Linked DNA regions of Homo sapiens: regions 2, 3, 4 and 5 are each reported to be linked to region 1. The links are microRNA targets in miRTarBase. Many come from high-throughput screens and were not tested one by one. Region 1 holds a microRNA gene; each other region holds the end of a gene's coding sequence.
The links. Region 1 holds the annotated microRNA hsa-miR-183-5p (UAUGGCACUGGUAGAAUUCACU, at 2,026-2,047, opposite strand). A microRNA usually pairs through its seed, bases 2 to 8, with sites in the 3' UTR of a target mRNA and lowers its output. Matches are read on the target gene's strand: a 7mer-m8 pairs with bases 2 to 8, a 7mer-A1 pairs with bases 2 to 7 and ends in A, and an 8mer does both.

Region 1 (4,294 bases):
GGCTCCAGGGAAAAGCTCTAGAACCGGTCACTGCCAGGGGCCTTCCACCCCCCCTTGCTGGGTCTCTGTGCCCACCCCACCTCCAGGGCTCATTCTCACTCAGGCCGGGAAATCCCTTCTTTCCTATCCCATGGGACCTGCAGCAGGACGCCCTAAGGAAGCACCCGGGGCGGAGGACTGGAGCACAGAGACAGGGTGCGGCACAGGCCAGCCAGGTTCCGAGGGGCAGAGGGAGAGCTGGGGCCATCAGAAGAGAGACCTAGCTACAGGGACACCTCACCAGGGCAGAAGTCCCCTTCTATCCTGAAATAAACAAGCCCCTCCTTTTTTCTGCAGGGGCTTGGAGAGCTTCTGTAGAGAAACACGGGCACCACACCCCAGAGGGAATTTATTGGGGGCTCCTCGCGGTTTGGTGATAGCTAACTGACAAGAAAAAAAAGGCCCAACCCACCCAAGGCAGTCCCCAGGGCACCCAGGCAGGCAGCACTGGTCACCATGTTCCTGCTGTGCAGTCAACTGGACCCGTCATCCTCCAGCTGCCAGCTTCAACCACACACATCCCCCACCCGGGCACTCCCTGGCTCAGACACCTAAAATGACTCCCACTGATCTGGGCTAAGTCCACCAACCCTTGCCTGAGGCTCCCTGGGGAGAAGCAGCCCCATCAGGGGCTGGCCCAGTGACCTGGGGCATGATAGCTCCCAGCTGGTCCCAAGTCGGCCACTGGTCTCCTGCTTGATTGCTGACCACCAGATTTCACATGGGTCCAGCCTGGCTGGCCAGGCTCTCCCCAGCTTTGACAGACTAGGTCCAGGCCTCCCAGCCTCAGTCTCTGCCATCTGGGGCATCCTTGGGAGCCCAGGCCTGTAGATTCAGAGCTGAGACACCTCCAGGCCCTGGGTGCCTCCATGGAAGGTGTGGCTGGTGGCGGAAGAGCCACAGTGACCCAGCTCTACCACTCACCAACCTCTTCAGCCAAGCCTTTCCTCTCAAAGCCTCAGGTTCCCCATCTATGAGATAACTATTTTAAAAAATTACAAGCCCCACAGGGCTGAGGTGGGAACTGTTGGGATTATATATGTAATGTCACCTGACACCCAGATGGAGAGCATAGGCCAGTTAGTCATAGCCCAGATCCAGGGACCCAGGAAGCTACATTACCAGTGTGTGGTGTGTGAAGGGGAACATTGGCCTCTGCTCCAGAACCTTCTAGGGGCAGGCCTGAAAATGCCCTCCAACTCCGAGCCCCACTAAGTATCCTCCTCTTGGAGCTGTTCGGAGATGACCCACTCCACAGCAGGCTACAGCTCCAGAGACGGTAGCCCCCCTGGAAACACCCAGGCTGACCTCAAGGGCAGCCCACCTGCCTGGAGCTGCCCCCTTCACAACCTGCAGCAGAAAAGACCAGGCCCTGTGCTGCCAGCCAAGGTCTCACCCCAAGCGTGTGCTGGGAGCCTGGCTGGGCCTTTCCAACCCACGGCACCATTCAGGATGGCCCTACAGATGGTTTCAGACTCCCCCACCTCTGCCCTGGGCGGCCCCATCTGCTGGCCCAGCTCAGATTGCTGGGCTCCCAGCTCTACCGTGGCCCCAGGCAGTGTAAGGCGATCTGGCTGCCCACCAGCGCTGGGCCCTCACACAGCAGCTGAGCCAGATGGGCTGGGGAGGCGGTGAGGAGGCCTTGAGGAGGAGCAGGCTGGGGCCCTGACACAAGGATGCAGGGGAGGCGGACGCAGCTGCGGGTCCTGCTTTTCCCATATTGGCACTGCACATGATTGCTCAGAGCGGAGAGACACAAGCAAAAATGTGCTAGTGCCAAAATCGGCCAAGCAGATGGCACTGGTGCGGGCTCTCTGGGGACACACTGGACGAGGGGCCTTGCATCCCTGCACCCTTGGAAGCAGCCTGTTTCCGACGTCTAGGAGCACTCAAGGCAGAAGTGGGTAAGGTGCTCCGGAGGCCCTCGTGGATCTGTCTCTGCTCTGTTTATGGCCCTTCGGTAATTCACTGACTGAGACTGTTCACAGTGAATTCTACCAGTGCCATACACAGAACAGGAGTCACACTCTGCGGCCTGCCGACCCTGCGGAGAGACCAGCGGCCCACGATGCCCGTTCCCTGCTCCTAGCCTGCCCACTCCCTTGGGGGCCCCCCAGCAGGCCCTCAGCAGCGGCTGCTACGGTCTCTACCCCCCACCCCATCCCACCTCTTCACAAGATCCACATGCCCCATCAGCCCAAGATGACCTTCAAGGAGACAGGGACAGTGCGGGAGAGGAGCTGACCTTCTGGCCTTGCAGAGGAGAAGACCACACCAAGGTGTCTCCTATCTCCACCTGAAGGCCCACATCCCTCCACATCACCCAGACTGCGCCTCCAGGCTGGGGAGGGAGTGGGTCAGGACCATCCATCTCCTTGCCAGAGTAACTCTGGCTCGGAGAGGCAAGCAGCTGGCCAGAGCCTCCTCTCTACCCAACCTGCCACAGGGGCAGTGACCAGTGGGACATCCAAGATGCCTCTCGTAGCCTCTGAGCCCAGACACCAGCAGCCCAGGCTCCTAGGCACTTTGGTCTCCATTATCCTCCACCCCCCAGCCTGCCCTGTGGCAGAAACAGAGCCCCAGGAACAAACCGAATCTGCTGCTCACCCCCACTCCCATCCCAAACCAGACCAGATTGGGCCAGACTGTGAACCGCCCAGGCTGGGCATCTCTGCTGCCGGCCTAGGATCAAGGCAGGAAAAGGCCAGGAAAGGAGGGCAGAAGAGAAGTCCTGCAGCCACCCAGGTGGCTTGGAGGGAGCCGGAGGCACGGATGCACTCTAGCAAGGGAGTGGCTCCTGGCTGGCTCTGGAGTGACTGCGGAGGAAAGCGGAGGCTCAGGAGCGAGGGAGGGGCTGGGAAGGTTGCATCAGTGGTTGCCAGAGCAGCTGCCTAGAGAGAAGTTGCTGTGGAGGCCCTGCCTCTGGTGTCACAGGCCCTGGGGAAGGACGGGAAGAAGGGAGAGGGTGGGAGGGAGGGTCTCTGGGGAGCTGGCACCCAGGGCAGGCAAGCTGGGGCCTCCGCAGAGTGGCCACTAGAGTCTCAGCCTACTCCAGGTCAGCGGTGGCCCAGAAGGCAGGGTGGCTAGAAAATATCCTGGAAGGGTCAGAGCAGGTGCCCTGGCCCAGAAACTATGCAGACCTCTTGGCGATGTTACCCCCAGGAACTACCTCCCGTGGACCTCAGAGCTCCATCTGGGTACCTTGGCCAAAGCCATCCGCTCTCCCCTAGACACTGCTTAATGCTCCACCCTTCCTGCTCCCGAGGACTCTTTGTCCTGCTCCCACACACCCCCACTACAGGGCTCTGCCCTTCTAGCTGGTCTATCTCCCCAGAGGACAATCCAGCTTGATGAGGTGGTGATCTCAGGAAGTCACTCCTCAGCCTTCTGCCTCAGTTTCCCTTACTACAATTTTCTGAACTCTACTAAGGAAGAGAGACCAGACTTCCCAGCCTTGGGTGGGGAGGGGAAGGGGTGATGGCAGGGTGTTAGCAAAGAGTATGGGGTGGGTAGTTATGAACATTGCTTAGGGTGTAGCCATAAGCATCACCCAAGGAGCCTGTTGAAATGTAGATTCTTGAGCCTGCCTGGAAATCTGCATTTTAATAGCACCCTGACAGCTCAGCATGGGGTGGGGGTGGGGGTGGGAAGATCTATTTTGAGAAATCTTTCCCAAGAAGCCTCACCCTGGGATAATTAAACAGAATGCAGAATTCTTCTTTCTTCTGGCTGGGCGCAGTGGCTCACACCTGTAATCCCAGCGCACTTTGGGAGACGGGAGGATCGCCTGAGGTTAGAAGCTCGAGACCAGCCTGGTTAGCATGGTGAAACCCCCGTCTCTACTAAAAATACAAAAATTAGCCAGGCGTGGTAGCAGGCGCCCGAAGCTGAGGCAGGAGAATCGCTTGAACCCGGGAGGTGGAGGTTGCAGTGAGCAGAGATCGCACCACTGCACTCCAGCCTGGGCAACAACAGAGCGAGATTCTGTCTCAACAACAACAAAAAAAAAAAAAAAAAAAAAAAGAATTCTTCATTCTTCTTTTGGGGACAGCCAAGGATGGGGAGAGGCAGGTGTTAGGGAAGGGGAACACGCAGCACCTTGCAACCAAGGAGCCACAGAGGCCTTAGAGCTGGAGAACAGATGGAGCCAGGGATTCTGCTCTCCCCAGCCCAGGAAGGAATAAAAGGGACCCCAGGTAGAGGAGAGAGCCCTGTAACAAAGCAGCCAAACACGTACGCTCCTTCAAATTGTGGC
Region 2 (4,294 bases), not on the chromosome of region 1:
GCCTCCAGAGCAGCTGGGACTAGAGGCGCGCACCACCACGCCCGGCTAATTTTTGTATTTTTAGTAGAGACGGGGTTTCACCATATTGGCCAGGCTGGTCTCAAACTCCTGACCTCGTGATCCACCCGCCTCGGCCTCCAAAAGTGCTGGGATTACAGGCGTAAGCCACCGCACCCGGCCGAGTTGTTTCTTCTTAAACCCATCCACAGCAGAGAGGAAGCTGCCAGAGGACCAAAGCTGTCCCCTCATGGCCAAGTGTGACATACATTATCAATTAGAGGACAAGGCTGTAGATCCAACTGGACCTGGCTTAGCCAGGCCTTTCCTGAGATCTCAGGGAAATTTTTTTTTTTTCCTCCCAATCCACCGAACCTGTGAGTCAGGGAGATTCTTAACATCCAGTTGGGTGTAGACAGACCAGTCCTATCCCAGGGAATCCGCACAGGCCCTAGGGACCCCCCACTGCTTTCTAGAATCCAGGGATCTGAACAGACTGGGTGGAATCATGATATGGGGTATTTAAGGCAGGTATGGAATAGAACGTGTTTGTGCAGCGGGTAGGGCTGGGGGGAGTATTAGCTTCCCCTCCCCCTCATCATTCTGGTTTGTGCTGTGTGGGGGTGTCTGCTAGAAGGGTGGGGCAAGACAAACAGCCAAGTCTGTATCTATCCCTCTATCCCCAGTTCACAGAGACCTCACAAAGGTCCCCTACTGGAAACCCCTAAAAGATCTCCTGAGAACCCACCAGGCATTCTAGGGAGACAGGAATGTGGAACCCACATCCTTACAGGTATGACTGATATGGTATTGTGCCTCTGGAAGGCATGGCTGCCGTTCAGCGTTACAGACTCTGGATGAGGCCTAGACCAGCCAACGGCTGGGAATGATTACTGCGGGATTAGGGAGGCCTGGCTCCAGCCAGTCTGGGAGAGACCCCCAAGAAGGGAGGCCCTGGAGGAGCTCTCCCCACCCCCCCAGGTTCTTCCTCACAGAGAGCAGCTTTCCAGCAGCCTTGCTCCGGATGTTTCAGGAGACATTTGTGACCAGAGTTCTCACACTCCAGAGACCACAGACCCCTCCATCGGCCCCAGAAGCCCCTTCATAGGTTGAAAGGAAGAGCCTGACAAGGCAGCCCTGCTTCCAAACGGAGCAGGAAACCTTCCCCCAACCCTTACAAAAGGATTCTCCCCAGCCCCCTCAGAACATATTGCATTCTCACGACTCTTTCAGGCAAATCCAAAGGGAAACTGGGACTTTGGGATATCAGAGGACGAGAGATGAGAAGGTGTCATCATTTAGGAATACTTCTGACAGTCCCTCTGGGTCACCTATTTTACAGTCTCCTCCACGGCTTGTTAAAAATGAGGATTACTGTACCCGTCCTCAAATCCAGAATGAGAAATGTACGTGGTGGAGGATGGGGGGAGAATGGGGCCTAGTTTCTGCATTTTTCACAAGTCCCCAGGAGTTCTGGCACGCATTAGCATATGAGAAACACGGAGAGGGTACAGGAGGGAGATGGATGGGGGTGGACAGAATATGTTGAGTCTAAGTCCACTTGAGAGGTGAGTGGCTCACATCACAGAGGAATGGCCAGTCAGGCAGGGCACTGGGCTCATGTGGCCCAGTGATGAGTACCTGTGCCAGGAATCACTCGAGATCCTCAGGGAAGTTAGGTATGAGGACAGATCATCTTGTCTTCCCTAGGCCAAGAAGAGATGTAAATGGAAGGTGGGGTGTGAAGGCCCTTTAATGTCCCTGCTTCCTTGGAAGCCCACCGCTCAAAGGCTGCAAGCAGTGGGAGGGGACCCGTCCATTCCCAATCCCGAAAGGGAAATTCAGCTACGGACTGGGGAGACACCTGGTGGATGAATAAGAAAAAGCACAGAAACAAAGGCAATGGAAAAATTTTTTAGTAAAACTGGAAAAGGCTCTATAAAATGTCCTGACTCCAGCAGTCTTGAGGCAGCACACAATGGCATCAGTGTCTAGGTGGCAGGCACTCCGGGCTGACAGCTTCCTTCTATGGCTCTATGACCAAGCAACCCAGCCCGAGGCAGCTCCCACCAGTGAGGCCCTGATATTGCAGGGCTAAGCACCTAGGATCCAATTCTAGTACATGCCACCTCATGCTAGGCTCTACAAAGTGGGGAGCAGAGGAGCTTGGTACCCACTGTATCACCCTTTGACTTTGAAAGCCTAGGCTGGAGTTTCGCATGAAGTCCCCGATTCCCCTCCAGGTTCATGCGGCCTGACCTCACTGCCTTGAATCTGACCTGCTCATTCCTACCTCAGGGCTTGGATTTCCTTTTCTCTCTGCCTGGGTCCCCTTCGCCGGATGTTCACGTGGCTCTCTCCTTCTAGTTGTTTAGGCCCCAGCTCACATGCCCTCGGCTCAGAGACACCTTTTCAGACCACTTATCTACACTAGCCTGCCAGCACTCTATCGCATTTCTATTTTCTTTACAGCATTTTTCACTAAAACTAGGTTTTCTGCTAATTTGTTCATTGCTTGCTTGTCTCTTCCGCCAGAATGCATGCAGGCAGGGACTTTATCTCTCTTTTCAGTGCTGTATATACAGGACCTCAAACAAAGCCTGAGCAACACAGTAGTTTCTCAGTAGTCTGCTACATTGAATTTTCTCACTATGGAAACCTGCTCTAGGTTAGGCCCCTCAGACTGAGAAGGGCACACAGCTCAGGACCACAGGATAGAGGAGCCCTTGCAGAGTTTTATGCTCCAGCCTATCCTATCAGGCTCATTTCAGTGACCAGCTCTGCACGGCCTTCACTTTGAACGCTTGGAGGTGTCTGGCTGGTCGGGAGTGGGGGCCTGGCCTGAGCAAATCTCAGAGTTCTGTGTCGTAGCCCCCTTTTTGCCAGAAGAGGGCTTTTTGGCCACTGGTCCAGTGTCATCCTTGATCTTCTTGAGCCGGGCCTTGTTCTTTGGTGGAATGGAGAAGGTGAGGGAGTTCTTGTTGAACTCAAGCGGGAAGACACCTACATCTCCATCAAAGCGGTTCTTGGACACCTGCAGATACCGTTTCCCTGGCCCGGTTACCAGCTTCCTGTCCTGCAGGATCAGAACATTGTCTGCTTCCTGGCTTGCCTGGGGAACAGGGGGCAGAAGGAGGAAAGCAGGAGTAAGAGGACATGAGCAAAGCAGAAAGGGGGGCTGACAGGGCAGGGAGGAGTGATAAGAATGGGGAGAGGGGCTGGGTACAATGGCTCACGCCTGTAATCCCAGAACTTTGGGAGGCCGAGTCGAGTGGATCACGATGTCAGGAAATCAAGACCATCCTGGCTAACACGGTGAAACCCCATCTCTACTAAAAATACAAAAAATTAGCTGGGCATGGTGGCATGCACCTATAGTCCCAGCTTCTTGGGAGGCTGAGGCAGGAGAATCGCTTGAATCCGGGAGGCGGAGGTTGCAGTGAGCCAAGATTGTGCCACTGCACTCCAGCCTGGGCAACAGAGCGAGACTCCGTCTCAAAAAAGAAAAAAAAAAAGAGAAAGAATGGGAGAGGGAAAAGTACTTCCCCCCATGACCAAAGCTCTTTGAACTACTGACCACGATGCTGGGGCCACTCAAATCTTTCAGTTCCCTGACAAGCTTGCTACTGTTTCAGACGCTGCCTGTGCTGTTCCCTCTCCTTCTCCACAGCGGGCCACCCCACTCAACCTCAGCTTCTTCTCTTTTAGGTCTCAGTCTAAATGTCACATCTCATGAAGGAGACCATTCTTTTTTTTTTTTTTTTTTTTTTTTTAAAGACAGGGTCTCAGCTGGGCACGGTGGCTCACGCCTGTAATCCCAGCACTTTGGGAGGCCGAGGCGGACGGATCATGAGGTCAGGAGATTGAGACCATCCTGGCTAACACGGTGAAACTCCGTATCTACTAAAAAAATACAAAAAATTAGGCGGGTGTGGTGGCACATGCCTGTAGTCCCAGCTACTTGGGAGGCTGAGGCAGGAGAATCACTTGAACCTGGGAGGTGGAGCTTGCAGTGAGCCGAGATCGCGCCACTGCACTCCAGCCTGGGTGACAAAGCGAGACTCCGTCTCAAAAAAAAAAAAAAAAAAAAAAAAAAGATAGGGTCTCACTCTGCTGCCCAGGTTGGAGTGGAGTGCAGTGGTGTGAGCACGGCTCACTGCAGTCTCAACCTCCCAGGCTCAAGCAATCCTCCCACCTCAGCCTCCTGAGTAGCTGGGACCAAAGGTGCATGCTACCATGCCCAGCTAATTTTTAAATATATATATATTATATATATATATTTTTTGAGACGGAGTCT
Region 3 (4,294 bases), not on the chromosome of region 1:
AGACCGTGGCCATAAAGGGTTAATACTGCACAGCCTTCCAGCCAGGGTTTCAGTCAACATTTGCCAAGCACCTGCTTGGGGTTAGAACAGTGGGATGCAGCTGTGAAAGACAGACAGACACAGCCTGGGGCAGACACATCCCAGCCAAGACTGGAGGCAGGTAAGGACGAGTGTCTTCAACTTCTTTGGATTGAGGGCTGAAGGGGCGGGGTCCCCCAGAAAGCAAAACCCACCCAGAAGCCCAAGCAGAACAGGACTGCCTCCTCTGAAGGTGGATGTCACCACTACTAGGCATACACATTTCCTTGGGCTCATCCCTACCCAGAACGGATCATTACAGGAACTGCCTCCCAAACCCCTGCAGAGCTGAGGCCAAGACTAGGCATTCCAGCCCCGAAGCTGCTCCAGGATGCAGTGGCTCATTGCCTGTAATCCCAGCACTTTGGGAGGCCAAGGTGGGCCAACTGCTTGAGCCCAGGAGTTCAGGACCACCCTGGGAAACATAGTAGGACCCTATCTCTACAAAATAACCTTAGCCAGGCATGGTAGCTTGCACCTGTAGTCCCAGCTACTTGGGAGACCCGAGGTAGATCACTTGAACCCAGGAGGTTGAGGCTGCAGTGAGCCATGATCGTGCCACTGCACTCCCGTCTGAGTGACTGACAGAATGAGACCATCTTAAAAAAAAAAAAAAAAAAAAGCTCAGGCTGCGTGATGAGCTCTGTAGGCCCACAATGATGCACAGCCCATAAGAGACATGGTTCTCAAATCCTGGTGTCCTCAGAATCACAGGAAAGCCTACTGACGATGCAAATTACCAAGCTCCAGAGAGTCTAACTCTATCAACTTGGGATGGAGTCCAGAAATTCCAGATGATCCCAAAGCTGAATGAGTCCCAAACCTACACTCTGCAAATCCCTGGCTTACAGCCCCCTGGCTCCCTCTGCCCATCCTTTCTAATCATCCACTTCCCAGACCAGTGGTCTGTAACTACCGTGAGGACTCCTAAGGTGGCACAGAGATGTTTCAGAAGCCCCCAAGAGAAAGGGGTGGCCAAGCTAAGGATTTACACACAAACACACACCTTTTCTTCCCTAAATTTAAAGGGTCCCATTAACGTCTAAGAGTATGTGTGTGTATGTATATATATGTAATTTTTTCTTTTTTGAGACAGGGTCTCACTTTATCACCCAAGCTGGGGTGCAGTGGCGCGATCTAGTCTCACTGCAACCTCTGCCTCCCGGGTTCAAGTGACTTCTGCTTCAGCCTCCTGAGTAGCTAGGATTACAGGCATGCACCACACCGCCCCCACCCCGCTAATTTTGTATTTTTAGTAGAAATGGGGTCTCACCATGTTGGCCAGGCTGGTTTCAAACTCCTAGCCTCAAGTGATCCACCCGCCTCAGCCTCCCAAAGTGCTGGGATGACAGCCATGAGCCACTGTACCCGGCGTTAAATATTTCTTAAACTCCACTGAAACCCATCCCCAGTCAAGCCTACTGCCGTGACAAGGGGCAGGACTGCTGAGGTTGCTCGCTCGCCCTCAGCCAGCGAGTTAAAGGGCCAACTAATGCCAGCTCTTTCCTCTGCGTGCCACAGGGTGGTGAGGTCGAAGCTGCACCGGACCTCACGGCAGCACAGAGCCAAGGAGCCAGGGGCCTTTGGCTTTCAGAGAAGAGAGAAGCAGGAGGCCCTGGAGAGAGTGTCCTCAGCTTCGGTACCGACGCCCTACCATTACCGGTGGGAGCCCAGAGAGTGAGGCCAGGGGCCGGCACTGGGCAGGGAGGCAGGATCCAGAGGACACTGCTTCACTCAGACCAACAGGGAGCCAGGCCCTGCAGGGGCTTTATTTTGACACCACTTTGTTTCAATACAAACAGTCCAGAAAGAAAGTCAAGTCCCTCTGGGGGAGGGGCAAGGGGAAGAGTGGTCTGTGTTGCTTGGGAGCCCAACCTACAACCCAAAGGTGGGGGCTGGGCTGAGACTGCCGGTGCGGCAGGGGAAGATGGCACCAAGAATGACAGTGCTTGGCTCAGCTGCCAGAGGGTGAGGCCCACAGCTCTCACTGGCGGGTGCTGTCCAGGCCAAGCCCAGAATGATGCAGAGGAAGGAGCTCAGCCCCAGGAGCCTGCCTCTGCCTCTCACATCCTCTGCTTCCCTGGCCAGCATCAAGCTCACAGCATCCAGAGTCGAATCACAGCAGACAAGACCCTCCATGGCCACCAACCCGGGGAAGAAGGGATAAAGAATGTCACAGAGGGTCCTGCATTCCACAGCAGATGGTACAGAGGGACCCTGAGACACCCTGAAACAATCTTCCAAGTGCTTACTGTAGAAAGGGGTGGTGAGACGGGAGAACCCAAGGGTCTCCGGTCTGATCCCAAATGAAACCTTTAGGTACCAGGTAAAGTTTCCAGCCCTTGGTAACGCCCAGACAAAGGTCCTTCCCCTCTCCTGGCACCCAGAAGAGGCCACTGGCAGCAGCAGCAGCAGCAAGTCCGCAGCCTCTTTCCCCATGGGACGGGTCTACAGTGAACTCCTTCCAGGCCTCCCCCTGGTTCCAGAGGATGGGGACCCAAGGCCTCGAACTAGAAGAACCCTAGAGCCAGCAAAAAAAGCCTTCTACCTTCCGCTTTCCCTACCTGGGGAAAGTCTGGACCCAGAATAAGCCATCGTGGGGGAACCCCCTTTCCCAGTATGGCAGGATAAGTGAGCAGCAGCTGTGGGGGCAGGACAGAAGGACAAGAGTCTAACACACGGAGGGTGGTGTGAGAGGGAATAAAGGGCTCAGTCCACAGGCAGAGGACAAGGGCTGGTACTGACCATTCCCCTCACAGGAGTGAGCGCCTCAAAGGCCACCCCACACACACACCACACATACGAAGTAACAAATCCTCCCCAGCTTCCACAAGGCAAAGCATCCCCAGCCTGGGAACTGTGGAGTTCTTGTTGCCGTCACCATCGTAAGCCTGAGTCACAGAGCTCGGATCAGTAGGAACCGTAGCGATCCTGGGGGCGAGGGGGGAGAAAAAAAAAAAAAAAGTCAGAGGCTCTAAGCTGCAGCAGCTTCCCAGCAAACACACTGCCTGCCCCAGCACCCCACAGCAAGACTGGGGAGGCAGGGGCTGGACAGCCCGGTGAGGCAGGAGTCCACGGTGAGAGCTGGGGCAGCGGCCACTCGGGCACCCGACAACAGGGAAGCCCTGCCTGGCCTCACAGAAGCTGGGAAGAGAAGAGAAAGAGCGGTACAGGTGACAAGGCCAGGGAAGATCATGGCAGACACAGAGGCATCTTGGAGAGGCCCGGCCCTGGCACGGAGCTGAAAGGAAGGAAGCTGCCCTCCAAGAAAATGCCTCTCTCTAGACTCTTGCTTTTTCGTTTGTGGTTTTTTTTTTGAGACAAGAGTTTCACTCCTGTCACCCAGACTGGAGTGCAGTGGCATGATCTCAGCTCACTACAACCTCCAGGTTCAAGCGATTCTCCTGCCTCAGCATCCCGAGTAGCGGGATTACAGGTGCACGCCATCATGCCCAGCTAATTTTGTATTTTTAGTAGAGACGGGGTTTTGCCATGTTGGTCAGGCTGGTCTCAAACTCCTGACCTCAAGTGATCCACCCATCTCAGCCTCCCAGTGCTGGGATTACAGGCGTGAGCCACCACACCCGGCCGAAAATGCTCTTAAGGCTCAGAGGGGCTGAGCAGTAGCAGTGTCTCTATGTGGTGGCGAAGGGCAAACCTCCCAGCACTCCTCATTAGGCCCCACTTCAGCCTCACCTGCAAGGAATTCATCACACCATTGGCCAGCACAGCCATTTTCCCAGCCACAGACTTGACACCCTGCTTAAACTGGGCAATGTCCGCTGTAGGCAGCACGTTCCCCAGAGATACACTTCCTGTAAAACAAGAGCAGGGTGACCCAGAGCCCAGCAAGAAGCCCTTCCCAGTCACAGCAGGGCCCTCCCGCCCTGCTCCCAGGCCTCACTTGGTGCCTGCCACCCCACCAGGGCCCTACCTGCTCCGTGAGCTCCATCCATGTCCCCAAAGAGGTCTGAAGAGCTGATGGCACTGCTGCCTGAGAGCTGCTGCAGCCGAGACCTGGCCTCATACTGTGGTGAGGAAAAGGCCAGGCCTGGGGATCTTGGGGCTGATGACCCAAGGACTCACACAGGCCAGGCCCTCCTGGTGCTAAAGCCCAAAGCAGCGGCAGGGAGAAAGCTCATGCTTCTGCCTGCTGCCTCGGACCTCAGGGCAGACAGCCCCACTTACCTCTGCATCCACCTCCCGCCCAAAGAAC
Region 4 (4,294 bases), not on the chromosome of region 1:
ATGTAGCTATATGGTTCATATGTATATATAATTTTATATATCAATAAGAGTAAAGACACGGGTACAAATTAAGAGTTATATGGTTTTACAAGTATATGTTAACCCCTTGGCGCTGGCGGTCACGGTGCGTCTCATTGCCGGCAATGGAAGTGTGCCGGGAAATCCCAACTCCCGGCGTCAAGGGATTAAAAGCAATAAAAACAATAATTTCACTAAAATTCTTTTGTGTAACACTTGGTCTTTTTTCCCCCCTCCCAATGTTTTAGTCATTGAGAAGGTCAAAACGAAATTCAGACTCTACGGAGTTGGCAGCACAGATGAATGAAAGTGTTGACGTCATGGATGTCATCGCTATTTGCTGTCCAAAGTACAAAGATCGACCACAAATTGCAAGAGTAGTGCAGAAAACCAGCAGTGGCTTCAGTGTTCAGTGGATGGCAGGCTCCTACAGTGGCTCCTGGACTGAGGCTAAGCGCCGTGATGGCCGCAAACTGGTGCCTTGGGTAGACACTATTAAAGAGTCAGACATTATTTACAAAAAAATTGCTCTAACGAGTGCTAATAAGCTGACTAATAAAGTTGTTCAGACTTTACGATCCCTGTATGCCGCCAAGGATGGGACTTCCAGCTAATGAATTTGTACATGCAGCCAAATTTACAGGAATTTTTTTAAAAGGCAGAAAAACTTGAAATACCAACATTCTGGCAAAAAAAAATCAGTTTTATGAAGAGTAAGTGGAACCTGGGATGCAGGAACAAAAGAAGGAAATGTTGGGCAAACATTTTTGTGGGAGCTCCCTTCGCTGTTGTGCAGCAGAAACAGATTCTCAGTTCATTTTTACTCCCACTGTATTATAGTTTAACAAAAATTGTTTATATCTTGGAAAAAAAACTTTCTGTTTAAAAAAAATAAACAAGTGAATGTTGGAAATTAGTCTGTTAATGTTCTTAATAAAGTGTTCTTGGAGTTTAACCTAGCAGCGGATGGCTTTCTTTAGCTTAGCCCAGTTTCCAGGGAAGCATTGTTTTTTCCAGGCTGTAAAATGGCAGAATCTCCTGGATATATAATTTATTCTGTTGAAAAAAAAAAAAGCATGCAGTATCTATGACCTATCTGCAGAAGGAGTTTTTGTAAATGTAGATTTTGATGTATTAGGTCACCCTGAAAACAATACAAGAAAAGGGATCCCCAGGTAATCTGGTGGAGCGAATACTGCAATAAATTTTTTTACTTCTCTTTGTTACTTGTCTGTTTCCATTTGAATTTCTTATTGTAAAAATCTGTTTAAATCCATTTATATTATTTTACAGTCTTTTATGTAAAATTTATTATATCACTGGTTTTCAAAGCAAAACATAAAATATTGTTTATACAGTTTGTATAGGCTGACTTCTGAATAATTGGTATCTATTATTTTCATTCCCATAAGAGGGTGTAAACAATTAACTCCAGGGTTTTATTGTATCCTGCAATATTTAGTATTAACTATATATGATTTAGCACTGTGCCAAACACATTTTCAAGAGTACATTTTGATATAAAAAGAAACTATAGTTTATTCCTTGTATGCTTCAATTTCTTTCTAGTGATGTCATGATGCTGATATTTATTCTTTAAACCTCGGGTAAAGGTAACCTGTTATTTGGAAAACCAGCATTTCTCTTGGTTAAAATGATGTCCGGTTATTTTAGAACTAGAGTTGAGATGAATATGACACTTCATAATTACACTCACTACATTTTTCACAAATTATTTTTTAATGCTGAAAAGAGTAATTTTACTTGTTGAGATGTTTATTCATTTTCTAATCTATGCTAAAAGCTTTTATCATAAGTCTTGGGAACAGTTGTCATTTACACATTACTTACTGCAGATATCTTGACTAAATCAGGAGGGAGGTGTTTAATCATTTGATATGTATAGTTGACACTCAGGAATAGTAATGCCTAAAATTTACAGTGGATGAGGTCTGTTTCAAGTTTAATTCTTTTTAAAAATGTTTTACTTATTTTTAAATCACTTTGAAAAAATTGACCTCCAGAATGCTGTTTTATGAAATTGGCAAATAAATGAAGGTATTCAATTTTTGAGGAAGAATGACATTGCCACAAAATACCTTTTTGTGACACCTATTAAACCACTATGAAAATAACTTTTCAGGATCTATTTCCTATGTGGAATTCTTTCAAATGCTTTCTTCACGGAAATGTTTTCTCACTCTTCGTTTTGTTCCCCTTACTTACATGTTTCTCTTTTCCTTATACTGTGAACTCTGGAACAAAACTAGATTGGGTTGGTTGGTTGGTTGGTTGGTTCTTCTTGGAGTTTATGTATATCAACAAAGGATTTGAGGTCACTTCTGAGAATAATATATCAAAAAGGGTACTGGTTAGAGAAAATATAAGAATAAAATCCAGCCCAGAGAGAGTACTAAGAATGTAAATGTGAGTAAAAAGCCAGTTTTGAATTCTATTTACGTGACAGTGATGCATGCTGTCATTTAATTCTCACAAAAACTCTCGTTATATATTTTATCCTCATTTTGTAGATGAGGATAGCAGGCTTAGAAGGATTTGGTAATTTACTAATGTCATGATAGGGATTTAAATCTGGAATTGAAGTAATTGTGTCTCACTACTCTAAGCTAATTGAACATCAGACATTAAGAGAGATGATCCTTATTGAAGTAAACCAGTTCCTAAAGGATCCTTGTAGTATACATACTTGGGAATCCTGTTCAGAGTAATTTTTAGGAAGTAGGTACACAGTAGTAAGTCTTCTGTTGCCTCAGTTGGCCATAGATGGAATTCTGTGTTTGCCACTCATTAGAAATTTAGGAATTTTAGGCAGGGCACGGTGGCTCACACCTGTAATCCCAGCACTTTGGGAGGCCGAGGCGGGCAGATCACCTGAAGTCAGGAGTTCAAGACCAGCCTGACCAACATGGGGAAACCCCGTCTCTACTAAAAATACAAAATTAGCCGGGCGTGGTGGTGCATACCTGTAATCCCAGCTACTCGAGAGGCTGAGGCAGGAGAATCGCTTGAACCCAGGAGGCGGAGGTTGCGGTGAGCCGAGATCACGCCATAGCACTCCAGCCTGGGCAACAAGAGCGAAACTCCATCTCAAAAAAGAAAAAGAAATTTAGGAATTTTAGGAATCAGTTTTGAAATTTTGTATATATTCTAAGCTCCTATTTTATCTGTTAATAGAAGCCAAATGTTAATATAAGCCTTAACTCTTAAATATACAAACCAAAATTTTCAGAAAGTTGAAGATTCTTCAAGATGAATTGTTAGGTCTTAACACTATTAAAGCTTTGGCAGTCAAATATACAAAATCAAACTTTAAGTATATTGGGGATTCACAAAGTTCTATTAAGTATTTAGAAAGTTCAGTCTTACTCTATAGTGTGTTGATTAATTACCATAGATTAATCTTGTTATATTGACTTGAAAAGATAGGTTATATTTGATATAAAAATTTTCAAGTATCTCTTCACTTTTTAAGTACATTAATATGAAATTTTAGCCTTATTGAAATTGTTTATTAAGAAAGAATGGCTAGTTTTAAAAATATGTTCATACCAAAATACACATGGCAGAAAATTCAGTGATCTCTAGAATTTTCTAGATGTAGTAATCTCTAATGGAAGAAATGCTGAGTTTTTTGAGAGAAATATATAGCTTACTCTGTTGATAGGTTGAGTATTTGAATTATTCAGGTAACTGAAGCACACAGGTGATTTTTATGACCATAGTCTGTCTCATGAAAACAGGTAAGTCAAACTGATGTTTGTTCAATACAGATTTCATGATCAGCAAGCAAATTTACCGTATTTTTATTTAGAAATAAATTAACCAGGGAAGTATGTGGTTCTCCCTCCCCTACCCACCACTTTTAGTTGCACAGAAAAATTCATCCTTGTCACTACCTGTGTCCAGGTGGTCTGCATCTTCAGAACTGTGGATATGGATAATTGGAATAAGATTACTTTTGCAAATATAAAACTCATCAGATTACCCACTTGAAATAATGTAATTTGAAACACTTGATAGTAATTTTTGCCCCATAAAAATCCTACGTGTTTGAACCTTTTGCTGTTTGCCTTGCTCATTTTAAAACCAAAGTTTGTTTAGTCCTATAGCTAATGTTTGTCATAGGCAGCATTTGTTACAAAATGATTTTACTAATTTTTCACTTGAATTTTTTTCTGAAATACAGTCTGTCCTATTGGTGCTAGCCGAGAAACAATTACATGCAAATTTAGTGTAATAGAAAGTCACTGACCAA
Region 5 (4,294 bases), not on the chromosome of region 1:
TTAAGGAGCATTAATAGTAAAATGTAAAATTTTCCTTCCCCAGATGACCATAGTCAAAGATACCTGCAACTCACCTTCCTACAATTAGCAATAAACTTTAAAAATAATAAGATGTATATCATCTGGGAGACAGGACATTTTATTTTGCCTTCAACTTGTATTACAAACACCCCCCTTTACACACCACACCCTGCCCCACAAAAATGGATTTTAAGTCTGAAATGCAGCACAGCTAATATGAGTTCAGTTTACTCACATGTCTCAAGTATGGCTCTCCTTAAGCCAGACCATGCAACCTGTAAATCTGCACTGTTCACAGGAGGAATGGTATAGGCAACCTATTTAGTGGTTACAGCAATACAAAACAGCCATGTTTCTGGAAAAAGCAAGGTTATATGGCAGTGATTTATTGTCATTATCTTTGTATACCAGGGGCGGTAAACTATTAAAAATGAGATAGACTATATCCCACGATCTACTCCCCGGAAAATAAAGGCAACACCATGAAGGATTCCCTTTGATAATGCACTGAAAGGCACTGGACAAACATGGAATGAGGTCTTACGGTGGGTGTACATGGCTCATCTCTCATTCAGCTTGCACTGAAATTCAACATTTTGAGACTCTTTGAGATATGAATTAGCTAGAGAAAACCCACCCAGAACCATAACCTCATAATTTTACCCTTAAAGTAGACATAAAATTTTAAACCTGTGAGAATCTTTAGTCTTATTCATCAAAGATGACTACCACTAAGAAATAGAAATATAGATTAACAACCAAGCTCTCAGGAATAGCTGATCATAACATACTAGATGTTTTCTCAAAAGCGTGTGACTAAATCTAGGTACAAATATAAGCACTTAACAACTAGAAGTATTTCTATACTTTATGGCTCTTAGTAGAAAGAAACCAAGACAGGTGGCTTGGCTCCAAAGAGATACTTCTTAACAAATATTTTTCACATACTTTCCCCAGATGATTAAACATGAAAACTTTCCTTAAAGTAGAAAAGGGAACAATGAGGCCAGGGACAGTGGCTCACGCCCGTAATCCCAGCACTTTGGGAGGCCAAGGTGGATGGATCACTTGAGGTCAGGAGTTCAAGACCAGCCTGGCCAACAGGCAAAACCCCGTCTCTACTAAAACTACAAAAGTTAGCCAGGCATGGTGGCGGGCACCTGTAATCCTAGCTACCAGGGAGGCTGAGGCAGGAGAATCAGTTGAACCCGGGAGGCAGAGGTTGCAGTGAGCTGAGATCATACCACTGCACTCCTGCCTGGGCAACACAGCAAGACTCCATATCTCAAAAAAAAGAAGCAATGAATTATGTCAATGTATGATTAAGGTTTTAATCAAATCATCTGGATTTTTAAAAATCTGTTATTCTAAAACTCACTCCTATTCCTCATTCACAGTAAAATGGACCTAAAGTTAGCAATTTCTAGAGAAGATGTCTTTTTATAAAACTGCCAATAAAACTTAAATCACCAAACTTTTACAGAAGAAAATTAGGTGTTTACTGAAAGAATTTGTAAGTAATCAAGAGTACAAATGAGGTGGTAGATAAGTTATTTAAAGACAAAAGTCATGTAGCTTGGATCAAGATCTATGTTTAAATCACAGAAATAAGCAAACTCAGTGGTTTCTAGGATGGTCTATTTAAAAGACCTTCTGAGCAAGGCAGTAGAAGCTGTGTTCATTCCAGGTGATATAAGGAGGACTATCATCACACAAGTGTTTCTATAGCTAAAAGTTCTCCAGGCAAAAGTAAACACATCTGAAAGATAATCCTTGATTTTATTTCATACTATTTATCCTGTAGACAATCTATTTATCATCTTGTAGATAATCAGGTCTATTTCTGCTATAGTAAAATAAAAATTAAAAAAAAAAAAAACCAACTCTACACATGATACACAATGTCCATGGGGAAGTCCCGGTAGAGTGTGAGGGAAAAAAACAAAGCTGCCCAATAGAACTGGCTGTTGCCTGTCATTTAGTAGAAGGTACCTCATCACTGAGATTGGACTCAAAAGTGCAAAAGAAAAAAAAAATCTTAAAAATCAAACCTAGAATTCAACTTTGTATGTTGAGATTCAGTTTTATTTATGCTACCAGCTAGGTAAAAAGCATACATATTGTGTCTGTGGTACAGTCAATACATCTGCAACTTTTCTACTTAAATTCTCTATACAAAGTCACTGCCAATTGATATGATCATTGATGGCAAAGGGCTTAGAATAACCAAAAGATATAAAAAAGTTTGCAGTCTTGCCCCAAGATACAAAAACTGAATTTTAAACAATATCATAACATACATGATTTAAACATTATACCAAAAAAAGTCACATCAAATCAAGTACAAAAATATCCAAACTACCTATTATGAACTGTAATGTTTCCATTATTCTGCACAGTATTTAACATAGAATTTAGCAGTTTCCAAAATATTCAGTTTATTCATTATTTAGTTTAAGCATTGCCACCTTTGCAGAACAGTGAGACATTAGGTAGAGTGACGCTGCTTTTAGTGTTTTAAAAAATACAAAACCTTTCCCTATGAATGAAGGAAAAGAAATTCCTCTTATAGGCTTCTTAGCAACCAACCTTGTGCCTAGAAATACAGAAGAATACAACTACTGTTTAACAGGGGAAAAGTATACTTCATCAACAGTCATCCACTAGGAATAACAAACGTAATTTTAAATTTTTTTGTCTGGTAATTTTAAGGGATTCTCAATATACACACAGATTAAGAGTTTTTTGCCTTGGCAAAAATAAAACTGAAGTTGCAAGACAATCTGAATTGAAACCATCTTCACTAATATAACTTGCAAAAAATATTTTGGATGAAAGATTACAATACATTATTAACTTACTTTTTAAACACAGAGTAAAGTTACTCTTGGTAAAATTAACTCACCCACATGGCACATTATTTTTGAAGTATGTTCAACAATAACAACTTGTACACAAAATAACATAGGTGAATTAACTTTGAGAACTTCTCTGCCTTTAAAATCAGCAATACTGGATTATTCTGTAGAATGATATACATATCGATGTTCTGCAGATAAAAGGCTCTAAGACGTTTTAAAGGGCTAAATTTTCTAGCACTGGAATGATTCCTTCATACATAACAGGTGAAGAATTAATAAGAATGTGTTTCTCCTAATCTTCAAGCTCTGAGCCATGCCTGACAAGTTCTGAAGAGGAAAAAAAAAATTGTTTTAATCCAGTTTCTGTCTGCTAGGAGCAAGGCAGCAAACACATTTTCAACCCTTTATGAAAAGATAAAGCAGAACAAAAGTGAAATATATCTTCAGATTATAAACAGGATTGTATTTTGTAGTCCACCATCCTGATAAGGTTAAGGGCCCCAACGGTAAAAGACCTCAGTCTAAAGGTTGTGGGTCTGCAATCGGCATGGTATGAAGTACTTCGTCTAGGAGCTGGAGGGCCCGGTGTAAGTGAATTTCAATCCAGCAAGGTGTTTCTTTGATGCTCTGTCTTGGGTAATCCGGTCCCCAGCCTTTCACAAAACTCATCCTGAGTATGCATAAGCGACGAAGGTCATCAACACCAATTCCAGCAGCAGCTGACAGACCTAACAGAAAAGATTTGGAAGACATCAGAGGGACAGGGTGATCTCTTCCCATCCTCCCTACATTCTAAATTAATCAAGTGACCAGCTTTCTGTATTTCATTCTCCTCAGCATATAACTTCTCTGCTAAAGTGCCAAGAAGTAACAGTAGATCTAAACTTTATCAACAAGCTGCACACTTTTGGTTAAGGAACTTTACATTTCACATGTGTCTTCTAGCTACAACCAATTATAAAGTAAATTACCACAATCCACCAACACCTCACCTATTTTTTTCTTTAGAAGTGGAGGTGAAGGGATAAGAAACAACTTGTTTTTAAGAGGTAGTGCGTGTCCACAGGTTGCTTCTAAAAACCTTACTGTCTAAACAGCCTAGTTCAGAATAAGACATAACTAATAATGAAGCAGTTAATATTCTTAGTTCCACTAAGACCTCTTAGATGACCGAGATGAAGTCTCTCTCTCAATTTCAAAGTGTAACAGAGTAATACACTATTACTCAGTGGTGGCAACTGATGAGAATATGAAACTTAATAATAGTTCTGGATTCTTCAGTAAAAGCATGTTTATAACACTGAAACCAGCAAATTAATGGTATCACCCCAAATTTTAAAAAATCAAATTCTCTCAATGAATATGCCTAATCTACCTCTAAATTGTAAACTCCTGAACATAAGTCACAATGG

Region 2: miRTarBase lists TWNK as a target of hsa-miR-183-5p. The part of its 3' UTR that is shown has no 7-base or 8-base seed match.
Region 3: the mRNA of ARFGAP2 is a reported target of hsa-miR-183-5p. Seed matches in the 3' UTR shown: 7mer-A1 at 2,697-2,703 and 7mer-m8 at 2,006-2,012.
Region 4: miRTarBase lists NIPBL as a target of hsa-miR-183-5p. The part of its 3' UTR that is shown has no 7-base or 8-base seed match.
Region 5: miRTarBase lists SMAD4 as a target of hsa-miR-183-5p. Seed matches in the 3' UTR shown: 7mer-m8 at 2,931-2,937 and 7mer-A1 at 395-401.

What each region holds. Positions count from the first base shown.
Region 1 is chr7:129,772,942-129,777,235 of GRCh38, forward strand. It overlaps MIR183 (microRNA 183), which reads right to left and starts at 2,073; the gene lies at 1,964-2,073. It overlaps MIR96 (microRNA 96), which reads right to left and starts at 1,828; the gene lies at 1,751-1,828. RefSeq lists enhancers at 292-1,153, 3,997-4,294.
Region 2 is chr10:100,992,005-100,996,298 of GRCh38, reverse strand. It overlaps TWNK (twinkle mtDNA helicase), which reads right to left. Exons shown (of 5, transcript NM_021830.5): 5 at 1,896-3,109. The coding sequence ends at 2,789. Among named protein-coding and RNA genes, the nearest start is that of LZTS2, 5.7 kb to the left of the region's middle. RefSeq lists an enhancer at 1-272.
Region 3 is chr11:47,162,494-47,166,787 of GRCh38, forward strand. It overlaps ARFGAP2 (ARF GTPase activating protein 2), which reads right to left. Exons shown (of 16, transcript NM_032389.6): 13 at 4,267-4,294; 14 at 4,013-4,106; 15 at 3,775-3,893; 16 at 1,808-3,009. The coding sequence ends at 2,989. It also overlaps a transcript of CSTPP1 not described here. Among named protein-coding and RNA genes, the nearest start is that of ARFGAP2, 12 kb to the right of the region's middle.
Region 4 is chr5:37,064,261-37,068,554 of GRCh38, forward strand. It overlaps NIPBL (NIPBL cohesin loading factor), which reads left to right. Exons shown (of 47, transcript NM_133433.4): 47 at 267-2,153. The coding sequence ends at 632. Among named protein-coding and RNA genes, the nearest start is that of CPLANE1-AS1, 180 kb to the right of the region's middle.
Region 5 is chr18:51,077,572-51,081,865 of GRCh38, reverse strand. SMAD4 (SMAD family member 4) reads right to left here. Exons shown (of 12, transcript NM_005359.6): 12 at 1-3,610. The coding sequence ends at 3,399. Among named protein-coding and RNA genes, the nearest start is that of SMAD4, 50 kb to the right of the region's middle.